3 linked regions of the Homo sapiens genome follow. The protein of the gene in region 1 interacts with the protein of each later gene in a pairwise test. Each region holds a gene or a part of one and is shown in the gene's direction. Other genes may lie near its edges.

The links. Proteins that work in one complex are often made in the same cells at the same time.
Region 2: the proteins of LSM1 (region 1) and BEX5 interact in binary tests that used the Homo sapiens proteins (3 or more experiments, as listed by UniProt).
Region 3: the proteins of LSM1 (region 1) and APBB1 interact in binary tests that used the Homo sapiens proteins (3 or more experiments, as listed by UniProt).

The regions. Positions count from the first base shown.
Region 1 is NC_000008.11:38,173,474-38,181,263, reverse strand, and holds the start of LSM1 (U6 snRNA-associated Sm-like protein LSm1), read left to right. Parts: upstream 1-4,770; 5' UTR 4,771-4,943; coding exon 4,944-4,989; intron 4,990-7,790. Other genes in the region: BAG4 (BAG family molecular chaperone regulator 4), read right to left, coding at 4,125-4,394. UniProt on the Homo sapiens protein: Plays a role in the degradation of histone mRNAs, the only eukaryotic mRNAs that are not polyadenylated. Probably also part of an LSm subunits-containing complex involved in the general process of mRNA degradation.
Region 2 is NC_000023.11:102,153,188-102,160,149, reverse strand, and holds BEX5 (protein BEX5), read left to right. Parts: upstream 1-4,172; 5' UTR 4,173-4,291; intron 4,292-4,359; exon of another isoform or gene 4,360-4,557; intron 4,558-5,339; 5' UTR 5,340-5,406; intron 5,407-5,847; 5' UTR 5,848-5,884; coding exon 5,885-6,220; 3' UTR 6,221-6,438; downstream 6,439-6,962.
Region 3 is NC_000011.10:6,409,071-6,416,094, reverse strand, and holds part of APBB1 (amyloid beta precursor protein binding family B member 1), read left to right. Parts: intron 1-4,733; 5' UTR 4,734-4,747; coding exon 4,748-5,468; intron 5,469-7,024. UniProt on the Homo sapiens protein: Transcription coregulator that can have both coactivator and corepressor functions. Adapter protein that forms a transcriptionally active complex with the gamma-secretase-derived amyloid precursor protein (APP) intracellular domain.

The DNA.
Region 1 (7,790 bases):
AAACTCCGTCTCAAAAAAAAATTTAAAAAAAAAAAGGCTGGGCGCGGTGGCTCACGCCTGTAATCCCAGCCAAGGCGGGCGGATCACGAGGTCAGGAGATCGATACCATCCTGGCTGACACGGTGAAACTCCGTCTCTACTAAAAATACAAAAAAATTGGCCGGGCGTGGTGGCGGGTGCCTGTAATCCCAGCTACTCGGGAGGCTGAGGCAGGAGAAGGGCGTGAACCCAAGAGGCGGAGCTTGCGGTGAGCCGAGATCAGGCCACCGCACTCCAGCCTGGGTAACAGAGTGAAACTCGGTCTCAAAAAAAAAAAAAAAAATAGTGATAGATTTCTAATTTTTTCCCTGCCATACTTAAATGTGTTAATATAGTCAAGTCTGTGTTGTAGTTCAGTACATCATCTAAATATAATCAGTTCTATAGAGCAATGCTTCTGAAATATTAATGTGCATATGAATCACCTGGGGATCTTAATAAATTGCAGCAGTAAGTCTGGAAGAGGAGAGATTTTGCATTTCTATCAACCTCACAAGTGACACCGAGGCTTCTAGTCCATGGACCACACTTTTTGAGTAGCAAGGTTATAAAAGGTTCCTATACTGTTTGTTTTTTTAATTTGACAGATGTATACTATAAAAATGCAAAACATAAAAAAAAGTCAAAATAACAAATCTGGAAAAAACATTGCAACATCTGTGACAACATGCATATCTTTTTTTTTTTTTTTTTTTTTTTTTTGAGACGGAGTCTCGCTTTGCTGCCCAGGCTGGGGTGCAGTGGCATGATCTCGGCTCACTGCAACTTCTGCCTCCCGGGTTCAAATGATCCTCCTGCCTCAGTGCCCCTAGTAGCTGGGATTACAGGCATGCGCCACCATGCCTGGCTAATTTTTGTGTTTTTAGTGGAGGTGGGGTTTCGCCATGTTGACCAGGCTGGTCTCGAACTCCTGACCTCAGGTGATCCACCTGCCTCAGCCTCCCAAAGTGCTGGGTTTACAGGCGTGAGCCACCACGCCCGGCCAACATACATATCTTTGGTATGAGTTTTCTATTGCTGCAGAAAAATTACCATCCTATACTTTTAAAGTTTCAGAATCATCAATCTGAAAGATAGTACAAACTATTAAAATGGTTTACAAATGCCCATTACACATTTCCACCTTTATCTCCAACTACTTCAGCACCATCACCCACCCTGTGGGCACAAATGTACTCAAACCACACCTGACAACCCCTTACACAATGCTAAAATCTTAACTTCTTTAGTCTATCCAACCCTCCCTAACTCTATGCCAGAAAACAGACTTTGGTTTTGATAATACAGCAGGCCCAGCAAAAGTCAGTCATCAGTTTAGAGGTCCTCTCCTCTTTCCCCACTTCAACTGATTTTTGGTCTAATTTGGCCAAGCATTTCACCATTCTATAGTCCCATGACCTATGTATTCCAGATTTAGGCTGAGAAAATATGGATCTTTCTTTCTTTATTTTTTTTTTTGAGATGGAGTTTCGCTCTTGTCTCCCAGGCTAGAGTGGAATGGTGTGATCTCAGCTCACTGCAACCTCCGCCTCCTGGGTTCAAGCGATTCTCCTGCCTCAGCCTCTCGAATAGCTGGGATTACAGGCGCCCGCCACCATGCCCAGCTAATTTTTGTATTTTTAGTAGAGACGGGGTTTTGCCATGTGGGCCAGGCTGGTCTCGAACTCCTGACCTCAGGTGATCCGCCTTCCTTGGACTCCCAAAGTGCTGGGATTACAGGCATGTCACCACACCCAGCTGGATCTTTCTTTAATTTATAATTAATCTTGGCCGGGCACTGTGGCTCACACCTGTAATCCCAGCACTTTTGGAGGCCGAGGCAGGAGGATACCCTGAGATCAGGAGTTCAAGACCAACCTGGCCCACACGACAAAACCCCGTCTCTACTTAAAATACAAAATTTAGTTGGGCATGGTGGCAGGCGCCTGTAATCCCAGCTACTAGGAAGGCTGAAGCAGGAGACTTTGACCCCGGGAGGCAGAGGTTGCAGTGAGCTGAGATTGCGCCACTGCATTCCAGCCTGGGCGACAGAGCAAGACTGTGTCCCAAAAATAAAAAATAAAAATAAAAAATAATTTATCACTGCTCCATGTTTTTCTCATACAATTGTTTACACTGTGATATAATCAACATACTATAAACTCTACCCTTTTAAAATGTACAATTCAGTAGTTTTTAGTATATTCAGAGTTGTGCAACCATCACCACTGATTTTAGAACATTTCTTATTTTTTGTTTTTTATTTTTTTATTTTTAGAGACAAGGTCTTACTATGTTGCCCAGGCTGGTCTCGAACTCCTGGACTCAAGCAATCCTCCAGCCTCGGCAACTCAAAGTGCTGGGATTACAGGTGTGAGCCATCTCACCAGGCCCTGATTTTAGAACATTTCATTATCCCAAAAAGAATATTCTCACCTACACCGCCAGTCCCCCAACCTCTGGCAACCATTAAGCTTTCTGTCTCTAGATTTACCTACTCTGGCCATTTCATATAAATGGAATCACACAATATGCAGTCTTTCTGACTGACTTAGCTCACGTAGTGTGATGTTTTCAAGGTTCATTCATATTGTAGCATGCATCAGCAGTTCATTCCTTTCTAAGGCCAAATAATACTCCATTGAATGAATATATTAACACCATATTTTGTTTATCGATGCATCAGTCGTTATGTCCTTACAACATTCCTGTATTCGAATAAAGAACCAGGGCTCCAAGAGGTTCACTCACTTTATAACTCAAATAATAAAATGACATTTGGGGCCGAGCGCAGTGGCTCACGCCTGTAATCCCAACACTTCGGGAGGCCGAGGGGCAGGGGAAAGGGGGATCACTTGAGGTCAGGAGTTCAAGACCATCCTGGCCAACATGGCGAAACCCCGTCTGTACTAAAAATACAAAAATTAGCCGGGTGTGATGGCCGGCGCCTGTAATCCTAGCTACTCGAGAGGCTGAGGCAGGAGAATCGCTTAAACCGGGAGGCGGAGGTTGCAGTGAGCCGAGATGGCACCACTGCACTCCAGCCTGGGCAACAGAGCGAGACTCCAACTCAAAAAAAAAAAAAACAAAAAAAACGACATTTCTACTTTTTGGCGATTATGAATAATGATGCTATGAACATGGGCGGACAAGCTTTATGTGAACATACGTTATCAGTTTTCTTGGGTATATAGCCAGGAGTGGGCTTGCTGGGTCATAGACTAATTCTAATGCTTAATGTTTTGAGGAACTACCAAACTATTTTCCACCATTTTACATCCCCACCAGCAATGTACGAGAATTTCACTATTACATTTTCAACAAATGAGGATAATTCTTGAACGAACAGAGAGGTATGCTGCCACCGCAGAACGACAACCCACTACCCAGAAGACTGTATTAACAAAGCAGAAGTATATGTCCGGCAGGAAAACGGAGAATAAAATGTTGCAGGTCCAAGTGTATTAGGCAAGTGAGTTAACCTCGCAGAGCCCCGGTTCCTTATTCGAAAACAAAAAAAAGGGCCGCTGTAATGCCATTTTACCTTGCAGTCGCCGTGAAAATTAAATCAGTCAATCCGCGTAAAGGTACTTTACAACACTGATTATTCATGATTCGATCTCAGGCAAGGCATTAGGGGCAAACAGCTAAATGCCCAGATCCCTCCTCCTCGCAAAGGTTCCTTCCCCTCGGGAGGGTCCCTGAGCGGCATCGGGGGCTGCAGCCACTTCCCTTCCCCGGGAGAGCCGGCCTGCCAGCCACGCAGGATAAATTGCTAGAGCTGGAGCAGTAGATCCGTGCCACCCCTACCCAGCACCGCTCCCAGGAGAGAGATCTGCAGCCTGCTGCTAAGCTTAGTAAGTCCGCGCAGGATCTTTCTTTTTTAAATGGTAATAAACATATTTTTTGGGGTCGAAGCAGAAAAGGAGGGGCAAAGGGAACACAAGCATGTCCCCCCAACCTCTGATCTTAGTCTCGGTCTCTCCAACACCCCCCGCAACACACCCTCCTCCACATAAGGAAAACAAGTATGAAACCCGATCCTTTACGAACCCCAGCCCCAAGGGCCCTCACCTCCCCGCAAGGACAGAGGGTGCAAAGCTTACCTGGTGGCTTCCTCCGGCTCGACCAGGCTCTGGCCAGGCGCCTCCCGAGGGATAGTAGCCATCGCCTCCTCCGCCTTCTCCCAGCCAGGTGGTCTCCGCCGGGCCGCCCCCGCGCACCCGCCAGGAAATGGGAGGCTGGGGAGGTTCAGGGCGAAGAGGATATAAGGGTGGAGGTGGGTGTACCGGCACATCTCCACCCCCAGGCCCGTAGTAGCGGCCGTAGGACGGACCGTCACTGGGGCCGTAGCCCGAGCGCCTCAGGGCCGACATGGGATCCGCTGCCCTGAAGCGCTTCCCGCCCCGCTCCCCACGGCCGACCCATCGCGCAGGCGCCCGCGGGCGATTGCGAATGGAGAGCAGCGAAGGGGGTCGGACGACGCCAGCCAATCCCAGGCCCGGGCCCGCCCCTTCTGCTGCCGAACCCCGAAAGCTGAGGGACGGAGGTCAGTGACTCTGGGGTCTCGGGAACCCGGAGACGAAGGAAGACACCGTGTTCCTTAAGAGGGAGTATACGTTTCCTCGCCATTTATCCAATGGAGTTTCCTCTTACCTACTTAACAGGAACAGGGAAAGGGTGTCCCCCAACGGTACGGCTGCCCCGCCTCTTCCTGGGGGCCCACACGTGTTACAGGAAGTGGGTAAGGGTAATATGGAGGAGCTTCCGGCAGCCCCCGGCGGCTGAAAGCCGGGGCAGAAGTGCTGGTCTCGGTCGGGATTCCGGGCTTGGTCCCACCGAGGCGGCGACTGCGGTAGGAGGGAAGAGGTTTTGGACGCGCTGGCCTCCCGCCGCTGTGCATTGCAGCATTATTTCAGTTCAAAATGAACTATATGCCTGGCACCGCCAGCCTCATCGAGGACATTGACAGTGAGTAGTTTATCTCCTCCCGGTGGAGCCCGGGGTTAGACCCTTCCTCCCGGGCGGGCGCCTCTTCCGAAGAAGCTTGTAGAATGAGTCCCGGGCGGGGCCGGTGTGTTCTGAGCTCAATCCGGGCGTTCCGCGTCGATGTCCTCCACAGCTGCGGTACACACCGCTTGCCCACCCAGTAGCCTGCTGCTACTTCTGCCCCTCGCAGCCTCCGCCAGCCCTCTAGCTGGTGAGCCCCAAGCGATGGAACTCATTCTTGCTTCCGTGGATCGCGGCAGCAGAGGCCCGAACACGAAAGAAGCCCGGGGAGGGGGGGGGCTTCTCCCCCGTCCACTCCTGCCTGCAGTATTTCGAAGTATCAGCGTGTTACCGGTGGATGGATCGGAATACCTAGAGAGAGGATTCATTAAAAAGCGAAAATATTAAGACAGCGGCAGTTGGACTTAATTGGCAGTAAATGTAGGCGCTCTACGGTGTGGCCATTTGCTAGCTTATTTTACTGTGAGGGTCATTAGCACCTTCAGGTTATTGTAGTAGAGACCACTGTTAGACATGGTATTGACTTTTCTGGAAAGACCAAATCACTTGCAACCTTTTTTTTTTTTTTAAGACAATTTACTTTTGCTTTTACTAAGAAGACCTCCCTTATTCCTGGTTTTTGTCCGGAAGAGGAGCTCAGTCCTATACAAAAGCGAAAAGAACCGTCTGCAGTTGTTCTGGCTTTCCTTTTTTCTAAATTCCGTCTGTGCATTATTCCTCAAGCAACATTTTTTATTGTTTTAATCATGTGATCTTTCTCATTAACTTGTTTCAAGATGATTTACACATAGTTTTAAATAAGTTGCAATCGTCTCAGTTACTCTGTGAATACGCAATTTAGAATCTATGGTTAAAATTTCATTTTACGGGCCTGGCGCGGTGGCTCACGCCTGTAATCCCAGCACTTTGGGGGGCCGAGGCGGGCAGATCGCCTGAGGTCGGGAGTTCAAGACCAGCCTAGCCAACATGGTGAAACCCCGTTCCTACAATTAGCTGGGCACTATGGCGGTGCCTGTAATCCCAGCTACTCGGGAGGCTGAGGCGGGAGAATCGCTTGAACCCGGGAGGAGAAGGTTGCAGTGAGCCGAGATCGCACCATTGCACTCCAGCCTGAGCGACAGAGCAAGACTCCGTCTCAAAAAAAAAAAAAAAATCATTTTATGGTTGACAGATCTTTTTTCTTTTCTTTTCTTTTTTTTTTTTTTTTTTTGAGACAGAGTCTTGCTCTGTCGCCCAGGCTGTAGTGTGCAGTGGCGCGATCTCGACTCACTGGAACCTCCACCTCCCGGGTTTAAACAATTCTTGTGCCTCAGCCTCCCAAGTAACTGGGATTACAGGCGCCTGCCAGCACGCCCAGCTAATTTTTGCATTTTTTGGTAGAGACGAGGTTTCGCCATGCTGGGCAGTCTGGTCTCCAACTCCTGACCTCAGGTGATCCACCCACCTCGGCCTCCCAGAGTACTGGGATTACAGGCGTGAGCCACCGCCTCCGGCCGACAGATCATTTTTTTAAACACAAATTACTTATTGTGCTATGTAAGGGAAATGTAGTGTAATTGGACTAAATATATATTAACATCTATATGAACCTGTTACGTGTAACAGGATGTTTTAGTTGCTCGAGGATGCTCTTTTGCCCTCATCTCTCCTTATATATCCTCTAACACATCCTGCCATTTTACTAAAAATCAGTTTTGCTCTTTGGTCCTCTAACCCCTACCTCTTTGTAGATTCCAGACCCCCTACTTTATGAAAACTTTGAAGCCATTTGATATGCACCCTTTGCTCCCCAACCCTAACACACAGTTTCCTCCTTGTGTTTCTGTATTTTCACCCATCCTTTAATTTGAGTAGGAAGGATTCCTCCCTTTTTGTCTGTCTGTTGTTACTGTCTCCTCTCACTGCTTCTGGAACCTTTTTTCGTTGTTAGCCTTTTTCTTTTATATCCTCTGTCTCCCCAACCCCTGCGTTCTTCCCCTCATGTGTTACTGTCTATCCATCTCAAATATTTTCTCCGTTCTCTTCATATGCCCATCCCTTTTTTCATATCTTTATCCCCAAACCTCGAGTCATTTTCATTTTGTCTGTTTCTTGATCACCTTCAATAGACTACTTACATTACTCCTGCAATCTAATTTTTATCCTGAAATTACTCAAGCTGCATTCTTCAAAGTTATTCGTCTAAGGTCTTCTTCTGTGTTCTCTCCCCTTTGCAGCACTGTGATACTCTCCCCACCAGATTCTTTAATTCTCTTCTCTTGATTTCTCTAACAACTGGTACTTGGTGATTTTCTTACTTCTCTGGCTCTTACTGTTCTCCAAAATAGATGGTCACTTGGATTACATGTGGCCTACTTCTTTAAATCTTTAGTAGATCTCCTGTACTTTAGTTTTTTATATCACCTCTTTGTAGATTTATCCAAAATTGCTTTCTCTAATCTTGATGTCTTTGGTTTTCCAGTCTTACTGTTTCCAACTATCTGCGTGTGTTTCTATTAAGTGTCCTGATAGCACTTTAGAATCACAAAGAGCTAATAACCTTCACCCTGAGCTTGCTGCTTTTATTCCCAACTCTTGGTAAATAGTTTTGTGATGTCTCATAAAACTCCTACATCTTTACCTCACATCTTCAGCACCCCACCCTCTCACACATACCCACTTATACAAACTCAGTAAACAGACTCCATCACTTAATGTTTTCTTGTTCCCTATGAAGTCAAATCCAGATGCAGCCTGCGCCCAGTACTTTTCTGACTTTATCT
Region 2 (6,962 bases), on another chromosome or scaffold:
GAAGAGCCCTAGACTGTCACATAATCCTAAGGTTTCAGCTAGGCTGAAGGGGAGCTGTGGAGCCAAAGACTTCAATTACAGAAGCCCTGTAACTTACAGAAATGCAACTGAATAGTGCTAGTTATTGGCAAGGATCAGCCCATGGGATTCATGACCTCAGCATGAATGTGCTAGTGGATTCAGAGGGTCAGCAACTAGAACCATCAATCAACAATACTTCCCACAGCAGGAGATCTAAGTGGTGCATTTTCATGGCGCCAGATTATCTTATAAATTTTTAACTGAGCTAAAAATTCCTGATGTATGGCTGCTCCACCATTTGTGATTACTTCAGTTTTTTCAGTTTATATTAATTAATGATATAATAATATGGACTCAATTGCACTAAATATTTTTAAATGACCATTTGGTCTTCAATTGATTTTCAAATGGTTCAGAAAAAAATAATAATGTATTCTTCAATATGAAGGGAGAATGAGAAAGCAAATATAGCAAAACTGAGAACTGGGAAATGCAGTGAAGGGCATGTGGGGTTTTTCTCAAAAACATTCTATAAGTTTGAAATTATTTCATAATAATTTTTTTAAAAAAAGATCACTTACATAATGATGGGAGATCTTTTTTCTTTGTTTCATTTTGTTTTTTAACTGTGACAGGGTTTCCCAACTCTATCTGATATTAAAAATTATGTCAAAGGAGCTTCTTAAATGCAGGTTTTCACACCTGACTCTAATCTATTAAACTAGGATCTTTAGAGAAAGAGCCTAAAAATCTTAACCCCAAGTGCTTCTTATGATGTGTTAAGTTTAGAAAACATTACCTGGTGACCTTGAGAAGTGTATTTAAATAAAAAATTAAACAAAAGAAAAAATAAAATACAATAATAGTTAAAAAAAATAAACCAGGTGATATGGTTTGGCTGTGTCCCCACCCAAATCTCATCTTGAATTGTAACTCCCACAATTCCCATGTGGAACCCAGTGGGAGGCGATTGAATTACGGGAGTGGGTCTCTTCTGCGCTGTTCTCATGATAGGGAATGAGAATCATGAGATATGATGGTTTTAAAAACGAGAGTTCTCTGCACAGGCTCTCTCTTTGCCTGCCACCATCCGTGTAAGACGTGACTTGCTTCTCCTTGCCTTTCATCTTCCACCATGATTGCAAGGCCTCCCCAGCCCCATGAAAGTAAGTCCAATAAATCTCTTTCTTTTGTAAATTGACCAGTTTCAGGTATGTCTTTATCAGCAGTGTGAAAACGATTAATACGCCAGGCAATATTAAGCATTGGCAGACATGAAAAAGCAGGAATTCTCATACATTATAGATACCAAATTTGGACATTTTTCAGGATTGACTTCTATGACACTGAAAAATATCCACACATATATAGAAACGACTGTTCTAGAAATTTCAAAATTTGATATTAGTATGAAAATTTTATGTACACAGAAGTTCAATCAACATCATCTATGATAATGAACACTACAAACAACCCAAACATCTATAAATATGAAAATGAATATGTGTGTACAATAGCAAAGACTTGGGACCAACCCAATGCCCATCAATGATAGACTGGATAAAGAAAATGTGGCACATATACACCATGGAATACTATGCAGCTATATAAAAGATGAGTTCATGTCCTTTGCAGGGACATGGATGAAGCTGGAAACCATCATTCTCAGCAAACTAACACAGGAACAGAAAAACAAACACCACATGTTCTCACTCATAAGTGGGAGTTGAACAATGAGAACATATGGGCACAGAGAGGGGAACATCACACACTGGGGCCTGTCTGGGGGTGGGGGGGCAAGGGAAGGGATAGCATTAGGAGAAATACCTAATGTAGATGATGAGTTGATGGGTGCGGCAAATCACTCCATGGCACATGTATACTTATGTAACAAACCTGCATATTCTGCGCATGTATCCCAGAACTTAAAGTATAATAATAATAATAATAATAATAATAATAATAATAATAATAAGAAGAAGAAGAAGAAGAAGAAGAAGAAGAAGAAGAAGAAGAAGAAGAAGAAAATGAATATGTGTGTATTATCTTTGTTTTTGAAGGGAGATATTTGGACTGATTTAGAGTAAAATGTGAATAGTATATTTCCTGTAGCGGGGATAAAACTGATATTATCCTTCTACCTTACCTGTGTTTTCTAATTTTGCTGAGGGCTTTTTCTGGTACCTTGGGAACTTGCTCAGCCCAGGTGTAGGACAACTTAAAAGTGCCAGAGATTTTAACATCCTCAGCGTGACATCCACCAATAGAGGGCCAAGTCTGTAGAAAAATACCCCAACTTCTCATCACTAGTTAGGATAATTCTGAGGAGCACTCTAAATCATTTCTGAGACTTGGAGGGTCCCCAGCAGATTTGAGCCAGTTGCCTTTTGGTCTTGTCAGGATCTGGTGCTGTATTTAAAACAACTTTTCCATTCTATTATATAAAAAATAACATGCTAAGTTCTATTTTTAATGGTTTAATGTCTTTTATGCAAACATTTAGTGTCTATTTTTAAGTGTATGAGAATGATAAGGCACTTCATTGTTTTTGAAAATAGTCAATTATCCCGATACAATTTCTTCAATCTAACCTTTCCCCACTGATTCAAAATATTTCAATGCATTTACTAGCATTTTTTCCATATTTGGGTTTGATAATTGAATTTCTTTTCTGGTTCATTTGTTCTAAATTTATTCTGGTACACTATTATCTTAACATTGTAATTTCACAATACTTTTTAAACTTTTATTTTAAGTTCAGGAATACATGTGCAGCTTTGTTATATAGGTAAACTGATCCTCTCCCTCCTCCCATCCTCCACCCTCCTGTAGGCCCCAGTGTTGTTCCCCTCTATGTGTCCATCACAATACATTTTCATCTGTCAGGGTAGCTTCCCCAAATTATTGTCCTGAATCATCAGGGCTAGGTGTTATTGTAAATTGTGGTTACACTAATACAATTTAGAGGAGATCATCAGTTTGTCACAGGTTCTCAAGACATGAAAATCCACCAGAGAGGCTCTATTAGACTCAATGCATCATTTCACGGAAGGACATGTAGAGATCCTTCACGAGAAAATCACTTCTTTCCTTCTTTCCTTCCTCTTTTCTTTTCTTTTCTTCTTCCTTTCTTTCTCTTTCTTTCTTTCTTTCCTTCTTTCTTTCTTTCCTTCTTTCTTTCTTGACAGAGTCTCACTCTATCGCCCAGGCTTGGTGTGCAATGGTGCTACCTCGGCTCACTACAACCTCTGCCGCCCAGGTTCAAGCAATTCTCCTGCCTCAGCCTCCCGAGTAGCTGGGATTACAGGCGCCTGCCACCACGCCCAGCTACTTTTTGTATTTTTAGTAGAGACGGGGTTTCACCATCTTGGCCAGGCTGGTCTTGAACTACTGACCCCGTGATCCACCCACCTCGGCCTCCCAAAGTGCTAGGATCACAGGCACGAGCCACCGCTCCCGGCCTTATTTCAAAGTCCTTAAAGGAGGCAGGGGAATGCTTTCTGGAAGGTTTATATTTATAATATGATTCAGCAGGAGAAACAGATTGCCATGTTTTTACAACTCGAATCCTGTTTTTTCAACTGAAAATAATTGTATTGTCTAGTTATAAAAACAACAACAAAATGAATGCATGCTGATGAAAAATAAAAGGAACCCCCTTCCCAAATAAACAAACAAAAAGGAAAGTAGTTGAAGTGAAAAAAAAATTTGAATACCACTTCCTGCCTATTTTCCAGACTTCCTAGCCTCTCGCTCCCCACCCCTTCTCCGGGTTCCAATCTGGGACCAAGCCCTACAAGACTGTTAGGGCTTTACTTGCTGGACGTGAAGGGGAGAGAAGTGTGCGTTTAGGTGTATAGAAGAGGAAGAAGCGATTTTTTAAAAGCTCCAGCAGAAACCAGAGCAAGCCAAATACAAAATATTATGACCCGTTTGGTCGTGGGGATCGCTAAATAAAAAAATAGAGGGGTGGATAGTAGCCTGTGGTAGTGGTGGAGAAAGCACGAATGAAGAGAAAGGTGGCCCCGCCCACAGTCCCGCCCCCACCCTCCTGCCGCACTGCGGGTGTGAATGGTAATTGGAAATCTGAGCTCACAGTGACGTGACCCTTAGGAGACCCAGAGCCAATGCGTGGATTAGTCCCTCCTCCTAGTTGCAGTCTGGTAGTTGTCGCTGGCCGTGTGACGGCTCGCTGTTGCCCTGAAGGCAGGCGAGCCAGCTGCCCAGGAAAGGTGGAAAGTGGTAGAAGCTGACCCCTGAGCCCTGGCAGGTAGGTGGCGCTGACCGGTGTGTGAGCAGCAGAGGGCAAAGACCAGAGCGGGTCTAGGACTGGATACACACCCTTTCCAGATACACACCCGTTTAGTGCGAGAAATGGAGCGGTTGGGGAGAGGATCTCCCGAGGGGGCTGGATTGAGAATGGGTACCATTTGAGATCTCCTAGGAGGCCGGCCATCGGGCAATGTCTGATGGAGTCCAGCCGGTGGAGGAGACTGAAAGGAAACAGCCTGCTTCCTGCAGGTCCGCGGGAGGGAGGTACAGCCGGCAACCAAGGGTTGGGGAGGGCGGACCCTGCCAAGGTTTTAGGCCTGCCTTCTAGGTATCTTTTCTTCACCCTCTACCCATTTAGAGCTGGAAATGATAGGCTGCGGGGGCCGAGGAGAGGAATTGCTGCAGAGGAGGGGGACAGAGATTAGGTCTGGAAAGCAGGTCCCTATTGCGGCAGTTGAGCGGGCGAGCTTCTGACTGAGGGACAGAGGCGAGGAGCGAGAAACTGTTTTTGGTCTCAGCAGGTCGGTCGGTGTAAGCGTGGGCGCTACCTGTAGATCCTGGAGTGAGAATGACAAAGCGCAGAGACCGCAGCAGGTCCTAGTTTTCAATGCCCACATACCTCTTCACTCATCGTCCATCTTGATGCATAAAATGGTGGGCATGGGAGTGGGGATCGGGTGGAGAGAGGGCCTGATGGATATCTAGATTGAAATTCTTTGTGAATAAACTACGTATTCATTCAGCAAGCTCTTCTAACTCCCCCGCCAGGCAAGTTGCCTGCGTTGCAGAAAGGGTAACTAGATGACAGGTAAGAGGAAACAGTAGAGATGGGCGCCTAAAGAAGAGGTTAAAACGTTTTGGAAATAATCATCTTTGATGCCTATTTCTGGAAGGTGGGATAGCCTGTCACAGGGTGGGAAAAGAAGCCGTGAGACAGGATGGAGGAGAAACAGAAGGTGCTAATACTAGGAGAACCCTAAATCAACTCCCATTACCGGTCCTTTGATTAAAAGATCAGTCCTGGTAATTGTCACATTTGTCTGCAGGTCTTTAAGTGCGTTTGTGCAGCCGATTTCAAGGCTAAGAGAGAAAGACTGCCTCTGATCCCTGAAGGTAGGAGGTTGCCTGGGGCCCTCTGGTGTAGGGGTATCAAGGATCAGAGCAGAATCTGGGTGACTCACAGCCCTTCCTGCCCGAGTTGAGTGCAGGAGAAACTTAGGAGAGTCTTCATAAAATGACAGCCTGTATCTGATGAGGGAAGAAGGGAGTAGAGGGGCGAGATCTGGGGCGCTCCTGGAGAGCTTATTAGGATCCCAGGGAGGTGAAGTCTGGTCTCTCTATGATCGTCCCCCTCCGCTAAGTCGTCTTGCATTTTGGCGGTAGGAGTGGCCTGGGGAAGGGATTTTCAGGGAAAATGATGGGCTTTGGGGCAGCGCTGGGTCTGGGGCGCCCCCTACAGGGTTCATAAAGTTTCTCAGGTGGGAAAACCTTTGCCAAACAGAGCTCTGAATCCTATCAAGCATTCATTCCCTCTTCTTGCTTTTTATCTTCTAGGAAGAAAAAAAAAAAAAAAACAGGAAAAAAACTCAACATGGAAAATGTCCCCAAGGAAAACAAAGTTGTGGAGAAGGCCCCAGTGCAGAATGAAGCCCCCGCTTTAGGAGGTGGTGAATACCAGGAGCCTGGAGGAAATGTTAAAGGGGTTTGGGCTCCACCTGCCCCGGGTTTTGGAGAGGATGTGCCCAATAGGCTTGTCGATAACATTGATATGATAGATGGAGATGGAGATGATATGGAACGGTTCATGGAGGAGATGAGAGAGCTAAGGAGGAAAATTAGGGAACTTCAGTTGAGGTACAGTCTGCGCATTCTTATAGGGGACCCTCCTCACCATGATCATCATGATGAGTTTTGCCTTATGCCTTGAATCTTGAGGTTAATAATCATAAAATCCCTGCTTTCTAAATTCGCATTTTTCCTGGTGTACCTTTAATGTGAACCTTTTGGCATTCTTCTGCAATTTTCTGATTGGAGATTGCATTTTGACCTAGTCTGTAAGTTTTTCTGTCAGAAGAGGACTTTCATCAACTTTCATGGAAAGATGTTTATTGCATACTGTAAAGTTAATAAAGCAATTTAAAAGCAGTCTACAGATAGACTATTTCATTTAGATGTGTACGTATGCACACTATATATAATATATATGAAATATATATATATATATATATATATATATATATATATATATATGAATGAATGAAAACCAGAATGTGCTTTTTCTATGTTGTATAGTTACTGGTACTTTTAAATTTCTTTATTTTTTTCTTGGTTATCCACTTTTTCTCACTTTTCCAAAATGAATACATGTGTTTCCTATGTTTCAGGGAAAAAAAAAGTAAGAAGCAAGGAACTTGCCAATCAACTTATATAGGAAATGGGGGCAATTAATAAACACTTGAAACACAGTTTAAAGACATATAAATCTTATATTACCTATGGATCTCTCATTTAGAAACATGTACCTGATAATTACAGGTACGTTACATTATAAATGCCTTAGACGGCTGCTGTGGGAATCAAATGAGGTGATGACTGAGCTCTGTGTCTTGCTCTATTTATACATGCAAGGCTCCAGCCCTCTAAGTGCCCTTCATATTTAGGGAAGATTC
Region 3 (7,024 bases), on another chromosome or scaffold:
GGATTGAATGACACAGGGGTCATGTTGACCTTGGTAGGAGCTGTTACTGAGTCGTGTTGGGAGTGGAAGCAGGTTTGGAAAGGGTTGAGGAGTGAGTGGGAGGTGAGGAAGTGGCAACAGTGAGTGGAGACAACTCTCTCAGGAAGTTTGCCTGTATGGGGGAGGAAAGAGAGCAGTGAGTGGATCTGGAGGAGCGTCAGGTCAAGTTGGGAGACCGTGGATCCTATTGAGAAGGAGAGGTTGATCATATAGAGGAGAAAATAGATAAACAGTGGTATAAAATTCCTGGAAAGGCATCATAGGAAGAATCCAAATCATAGGTGAAGCAGTTGGTTTTGGGAAGGAGAGAAAGGGATAGGTGCTGAAGTTTGGTTAGGTTTTTATGTTTGAGGATGTTACCCAGTTGGATGGCTTCCCTTTCCTCTGTGAATCAGGAGGGGAGATCAGCCTCTGAGACGGGTGGCCAATGGAGAGTTATGTCCTAGTCTCAGGCAGGCCTTTGCTGATGTCTTGGCTGTAGTAAGCCCCAGGTTCCTGTAATGCCCTCCTCTTCCTCCTTCATGATATTCAGTCAACAAATAGGGAATGCTATGGGTGCCAGGCACTGTTCTAGATGTTGGTGTTACACTGCATTGTAACAAGTTGTTCAATGACTGTTTCCCGCTGAACTGAGAACTCCTCCAGAGGAAGAACCATTTCTTTTGTCTTCATCACTCTCCCCTGTGTCTAGCACAGTGCCTGGCATATGGGAAGCTGTCAGATTAGACAACTCCTGACTTTGAGCAAGACTCAACCCCAACCCCTGTGGTCTGATGCCAGGATCTTCAGGCTTAGTGACTACTTCTTTCACTTCCTGCCCCGAGGCCCCTGCCCAACTCCCTGCCTTGAGCCAGAACCCAGTTGGCTCTTTGCATCCTTTGGTAACTCCAATGAGAGGGGAGAGATTAGGTTGTGTTCCTTCTTTAAAAAATTGGACTGAGATCATCTTTTTGACCTCGAGCAGTGGGGTGTTGGTGACCACACCACCTCAGGCTAGATGCTCAGGCTTCAGCACTTAAACAGTTTCACCATTCTTCCTCTAATACTTCCTGCCCTGGTGACCAGATTGGCGGGGCTGCCCTGAGGTCAACTTGGCTCTTCACTGTTTCAGCCTCACAGTGCATGCACTCTTCTCAGATCATATCTCCTAGTGCCTAGGAGGTTGGTCTCTGCCTGACCTTTGAGAAACCTGGCTCTGTACACTACTGCTTCAGAGAAGGGTTTGCCATCCTTAAGGTCCTCTGAGCATGGCAGAGTCGTGGAGTCTTCTGCTTCCTGACACCCATGGAGATGCCACTCTTGAACAGTGTCTGTGCCAAGATGTTGGTTTAAGCTACCTCCCTCGCTCCCTTTTCCTAGATCTCAGCCCTCACCTCTCCAGGATTCCTGTCCCATCTTACTTCCCACTCAGGGACCCTTTGGCATTCTCTGACACCCTCCCAAACACTCCCTTTGCTCCTCCCCAGCCCATTGGGCCACACAGCCTTTCTTGGTATTTATTCCCAGCCAGTTCTGAGCTTCCTGGATCCTCCCACCCCCTGTGTCTGTCCCGTTCATCCGTCCTTTCCTTCTGCAACAGCCCAGTCTGTGTCGGCACACGGCACACTCTCTTTGGTAATGGGAATGTGAAATTGAATAAGACACCGTCTCAGATATTCTGATAGAATGTGGTTCTGGGTGTTGTGAGACACGAAGGAGAGAACAGTCACTTGATGGTGGGGAGAGAACAGGAAAGACTGCTTAGGAGCTGTAACTGCTGAGGTTAGTTTTGAAATACAAGCAGAGGTTCTCACAAGGGGAGACAGAATTCCAGGCCGAGGGAGCAGTATAAACAAAGACCCAGGGCTTTAAGAGTGTGCGACATGTTTCAGAATCCGCCACGCTTCATGTGGCTAGAGTATAAGGTATAAAGGAGGCGGGAGGTGGGGAGGGGACTGACAGGTTATAGAGGCCGGCTTAAGAGGGCTCTTGGGTGTCTGCGAACGAGTGCAGGCGTTATCCGAAAGGCAGTGGTGAGCCCTCTCATTTTCTGAACCAGGGAGTGACACAATCTGGTTTCCATTTTTGGAAGATTACTGTGGTTCTGGGAGGAGGTAGAGCTATTTTTTTCTTCATTTATTCCAGTGGCTGTGAGTTTTCTCATTGGCCAGGAGGAGTCACACTGAGCAGATCAACAGCCCCACGTGAGGCAGACACGTGCGCAGAAACCTTTTTCATCTTACAGATGTGTGGGTAGCATAGCACTAGTGTCTGAGGAACTAGAGACGTAGAAAGGTGAGCTATGGGGCCGGGCGCGGTGGCTCACGCCTGTAATCCCAGCACTTTGGGAGGCTGAGGCGGGTGGATCACCTGAGGTCAGGAGTTTGAGACCAGCCTGGCCAACATGGTGAAACCCTATCTCTACTTAAAAGAAAAAAAAAAAAAGAATTACAAAAATTAGCTGGGCGTGGTGGTGGGCACCTATAATCCCAGCTACTCAGGAGGCTGCAGGAGGTTGCAGTGAGCTGAGATCGTGCCATTGCACTCCAGCCTGGGCGCACCGCACCTGGAGAGATGGGCAAGCCCTGCTCAGGTAGCTGCAAGACCTGTGCTCAGCGCTGAGAACACAGAGGGAAGGGGGGTAGTGGTGAGTCAGGGAAAGAAAGAACTCCTTAGTAGAGGAACAGGGAGATAGGGAACTCTCAGATAAGACATCAAGGAGAAAGGTCTGTACAGTGGGAATGAGAAAGAGCACAGTGCAGTGTTTGTTGGGATGGTCAGTGAGGGAGAATTGTCTGTTGGGGGAAGGGTCGGGTAGGGCAAGAGAATCAGTGAGGCCATCGAGGGAGGAGAGAGTAATGTGGTAGGGGCTGTCTGAAGGAGGGCTTGCATGGAGGGCTCAGGATGAGAGAGAAGTGGGCAGTGGTTGGTCAGGGAGAAATAACTGAAATCGGGGGCTGGTGAGGGTCCAGGGAGAGAGCACTTTCTCTTGGGGGTCCGGGAAGGAGAGCAGCAGAGCAACTGGAAGGTCAGGGAGAGTGGGGAGGATGGAATGGGGCCGAGGGTGGGTCCCTGGGTGGCGGGCTGGAAGGATAGTTGGGACTCAAATGGTTGCGGAGAAACTGACCCACGAAGGGCTGTGAGGAGGCAGAGGGAGGGGTCTGGAGGGGGAGCTGTCCTTGCGGAACAGGACGTCCTCTTACCTGAGAGGCAGGTGGAGTTTGTTTGGGGCACCATAAGGCATAGTAACGTAACCAAAGTGTTTTCTGACACTGGCAGAGGAGATGCCAAAGCGAAGCCTGGAGGAAATGGGGACTGATTCATACATTCATTCAGCAAATATTAATGGAGTTCCTGCTCTGTGCCAGGACTACGCTAGGCACTAGGCATACTGTATTTAACCAAAAAGGCAAAATCCTCACCAACATGGAAATTATAAATTATAGTCATGAGGAGACAATCATTAGACAAAGTAAATAATAAATTGGCTTGTCAGATGGTGACAGGCGCTGGGGAAGAGTTTAGGGATTGCTGAGGAGGGGCGGAGGTAGCCTGTGGTTTTAAAATGGGTGTTCAGGGAAGGCTTCACTGAGGCTGTGACATTTGGTCAAAGATCTGAAAGGCTGGGCCGGACGCAGTGGCTCATGCCTGTAATCCCAGCACTTTGGGAGGCCGAAGTGGGCGGATCACGAGGTCAGGAGTTTGAGATCAGCCTGACCAACATGGTGAAGCCCCGTCTCTACTAAAAATACAAAAATTACCTGGGCGTGGTGGTGGGCACCTGTAATCACAGCTACTCAGGAGGCTGAGGCAGGAGAATCACTTGAACCCGAGAGGCAGAGGTTGCAGTGAGCCAAGATTGTGCCATTGCACTCCAGCCTGGGCAACAAGAGCAAGATTCTGTCTCAAAAACAAACAAACAGACAAACAACCCCCAAAAAACAAAGATCTGAAAGGCTGAGGGGCCCAGGGGAAAGGCTCCCATAGTGATCCAGGACAGGGCATTATGAGGGCTGGCAGAGGGACCAGTGCCCAAGGGGAGCTACTTCATGGAAATTGTCACCAAGATGTAGCTTCATCTGGCCAGAGAAGCCATGAATTGCAGCCGAGCGCCCTCCCTCTGTGACCTGCCTTCCAGTGCCATGCCCTGTAGGGCTGGTTCTGCAGCTTATTTGCTCCTGTCCTCACAGTCCCTAGTATGGGGTGGGCTTGGGGGCTGGTTGAGCTGAGTGATTTATGGGAATAGGAACACAGCCGGAGGAGCTTACAGTGATGGGGCTTGGGATGGAAGTGCGGCCGGAGAGGGGCAGTCAGTGATCAGTGTCCAAAACACACGAGCCGGTCCCACTCTAGTGGTGTTCCTGGCACAGTAAGCCCCGGGTGGATGAGCTGGGGGGTGGGGAGGCACAGAGAGCCATTGTGTGGAGGCCTTGCTGGTGGGACCGAGGGCAGGCGCCAGCTGTGCCATCCCAGAAAGCTCAGGGCAGGGGATATAGGGATGGGGTGGGCCTCAGACCTGGGCCTGGACTGTGATGGGGATGATAGTGCTGGGACAGAAGTTGAACCCAGTCATTCTCATAGGATAGAGAGCCATGGGTGCTAGCCTGCTTAGTGCAGGGAGATGAGGAGGCACAGGGCATAGCCCTGGGGCAGAAGCAGTGATGCTGCTGTTCTGGACCAGAGGCTCAACAGCATCTCCCCTCCGCACCCCACAGGAGCTGCCAAGGCCATGTCTGTTCCATCATCACTGAGCCAGTCGGCCATTAATGCCAACAGCCACGGAGGCCCCGCACTGAGCCTACCCCTGCCTCTGCACGCTGCCCACAACCAGCTGCTCAACGCCAAGCTGCAGGCCACAGCTGTGGGACCCAAGGACCTGCGCAGCGCCATGGGGGAGGGTGGTGGGCCTGAGCCAGGCCCTGCCAATGCCAAGTGGCTAAAAGAGGGCCAGAACCAGCTCCGGCGGGCCGCCACGGCCCACCGTGACCAGAATCGCAATGTGACCTTGACCTTGGCGGAGGAGGCCAGCCAGGAGCCTGAGATGGCACCCTTGGGCCCCAAAGGCCTGATACACCTGTACTCTGAGCTGGAGCTCTCAGCTCACAACGCAGCCAACCGAGGCCTACGAGGACCTGGCCTGATCATCAGCACTCAAGAGCAGGGGCCAGATGAGGGAGAGGAGAAGGCGGCCGGGGAGGCCGAGGAGGAGGAGGAGGATGATGATGATGAAGAGGAGGAGGAGGACTTATCTTCTCCCCCAGGGCTGCCTGAGCCCCTGGAGAGTGTGGAGGCCCCTCCCAGGCCCCAAGCCCTTACAGATGGCCCCCGGGAACACAGCAAGAGTGCCAGCCTCCTGTTTGGCATGCGGAACAGTGCAGCCAGTGATGAGGACTCAAGCTGGGCTACCTTATCCCAGGGCAGCCCCTCCTATGGCTCCCCAGAGGACACAGGTACCTTGTGGAGCTTGACATGGGCATGTGGGAGGGTGTGAGGGCAGAGGTTAGGACTCTCATACAGAGGCCAGTGCCAGCCTGATGTGAGCTGAGAGCCCATACCCTGAGGCCACAGCAGGCCATGTCCAGGCTTTTTCATTCAGAGAGTGCTTGGACATTCTGGTAGATCTGACCATCATGCATGCCCGGATGGATGGATCTATTCATTATGCATGCCACCATGGTTGATAAGTGGACTAGTTTACTGGGCACTGACTAGGTAACTGGCCCTCTGCTCAGCATTTTCAGGCTTTATCCTTACAATAAAGCTGTGAGGTAAATATTATGATGATTCCCATATTACAGATAACAAAAAAGAGATCCAGAGAGGTTTAGTAGCTTTCTCGAGACCACAGACAGGCTGAGATTACAATAGAGCTGAAATCTAAACCAGGTCTCAGTCCAGGCCTGAGCTCTTGGCCCCGTGTTATGCTGCCGCCAATGCATAGAGCACAATGCACTCAGGTGCACTTGGGACAGTCGGCCCCGTTTTTTTTTTTTTTGAGACAGAGTCTCACTCTGTCGCCAGTCTGCCCCGTTTTAACAGGTCACGCCTGTTGGGAGCAGCCAGCAGCTCCCCACAGAGGTCTGTTTGGAAAGACTGGGAATGTTGTGTGCTTATAATCCACATGCTCCAGCACCATTGCAAGGATACAGTTTTGTCAGGAGTAGGATATTGACTAAAAGTTAGAAAAGAAAACCCTTTGGGTAGGGGGAGGAGAATAGATACTAGGACTCCAGGGCTTAATCATTAAATATGTCCATTTAAATTAAGCTGAGTCTCCACATTTTCTAATGTCGTGTAGCGAATACAGGAAAAGCTGAGGAACAAAGAGTGGAGATAATGGGCTATAGTTACAACCAAAACCCTGGAGTTTTGTAGATGGAGGTCTAAGAAAGATTAGGAAAGACCCCTATCCTTACCAGGTGGCGGACACAATACCCATACCCCAAACTGTGCAATCTTTGTGGAGAACATGCAGTTCAGATGAGCCTAGGGCTGCACACCATCCCCTTTCGAAAAACTCATTCTGGACATTTTCAAACATACACAAAAATAGAGAGAAAAGAATAATGAGCCTGATTTACCCACGAGCCAGTTTTACCAATTATCAATACATAACTAATCTTGCTACCTGCATGCTCTCTTCCGTTCCTAGGCCCAGCGTAGGTTATTCTGAAGCAAATACTTTTATCTATAAATGTTTACAGCTGGGTGCAGTGGCTCACACCTGTAATCCCAGCATTTTAGAAGGCTAAAATGGGTAGATTGCTTGAGCCCAAGAGTTCAAGACCAGTCTGAGCAACATGGCAAAACCTCTCCTCTATAAAAAAGACAAAAAAATTAGCCGGGAGTGGAGGCATCAGCCACTGTGGTCTCAGCTACTCAGGTGACTGACCTGAGAGGATCATCCGAACCCAAGAAAGTCGAGACTACAGTGAGCCATGATTGAGCCACTGCATTCCAGCCTGGATGGCAGAGAGAGACCCTTTCTCAACAACAACAACAACAG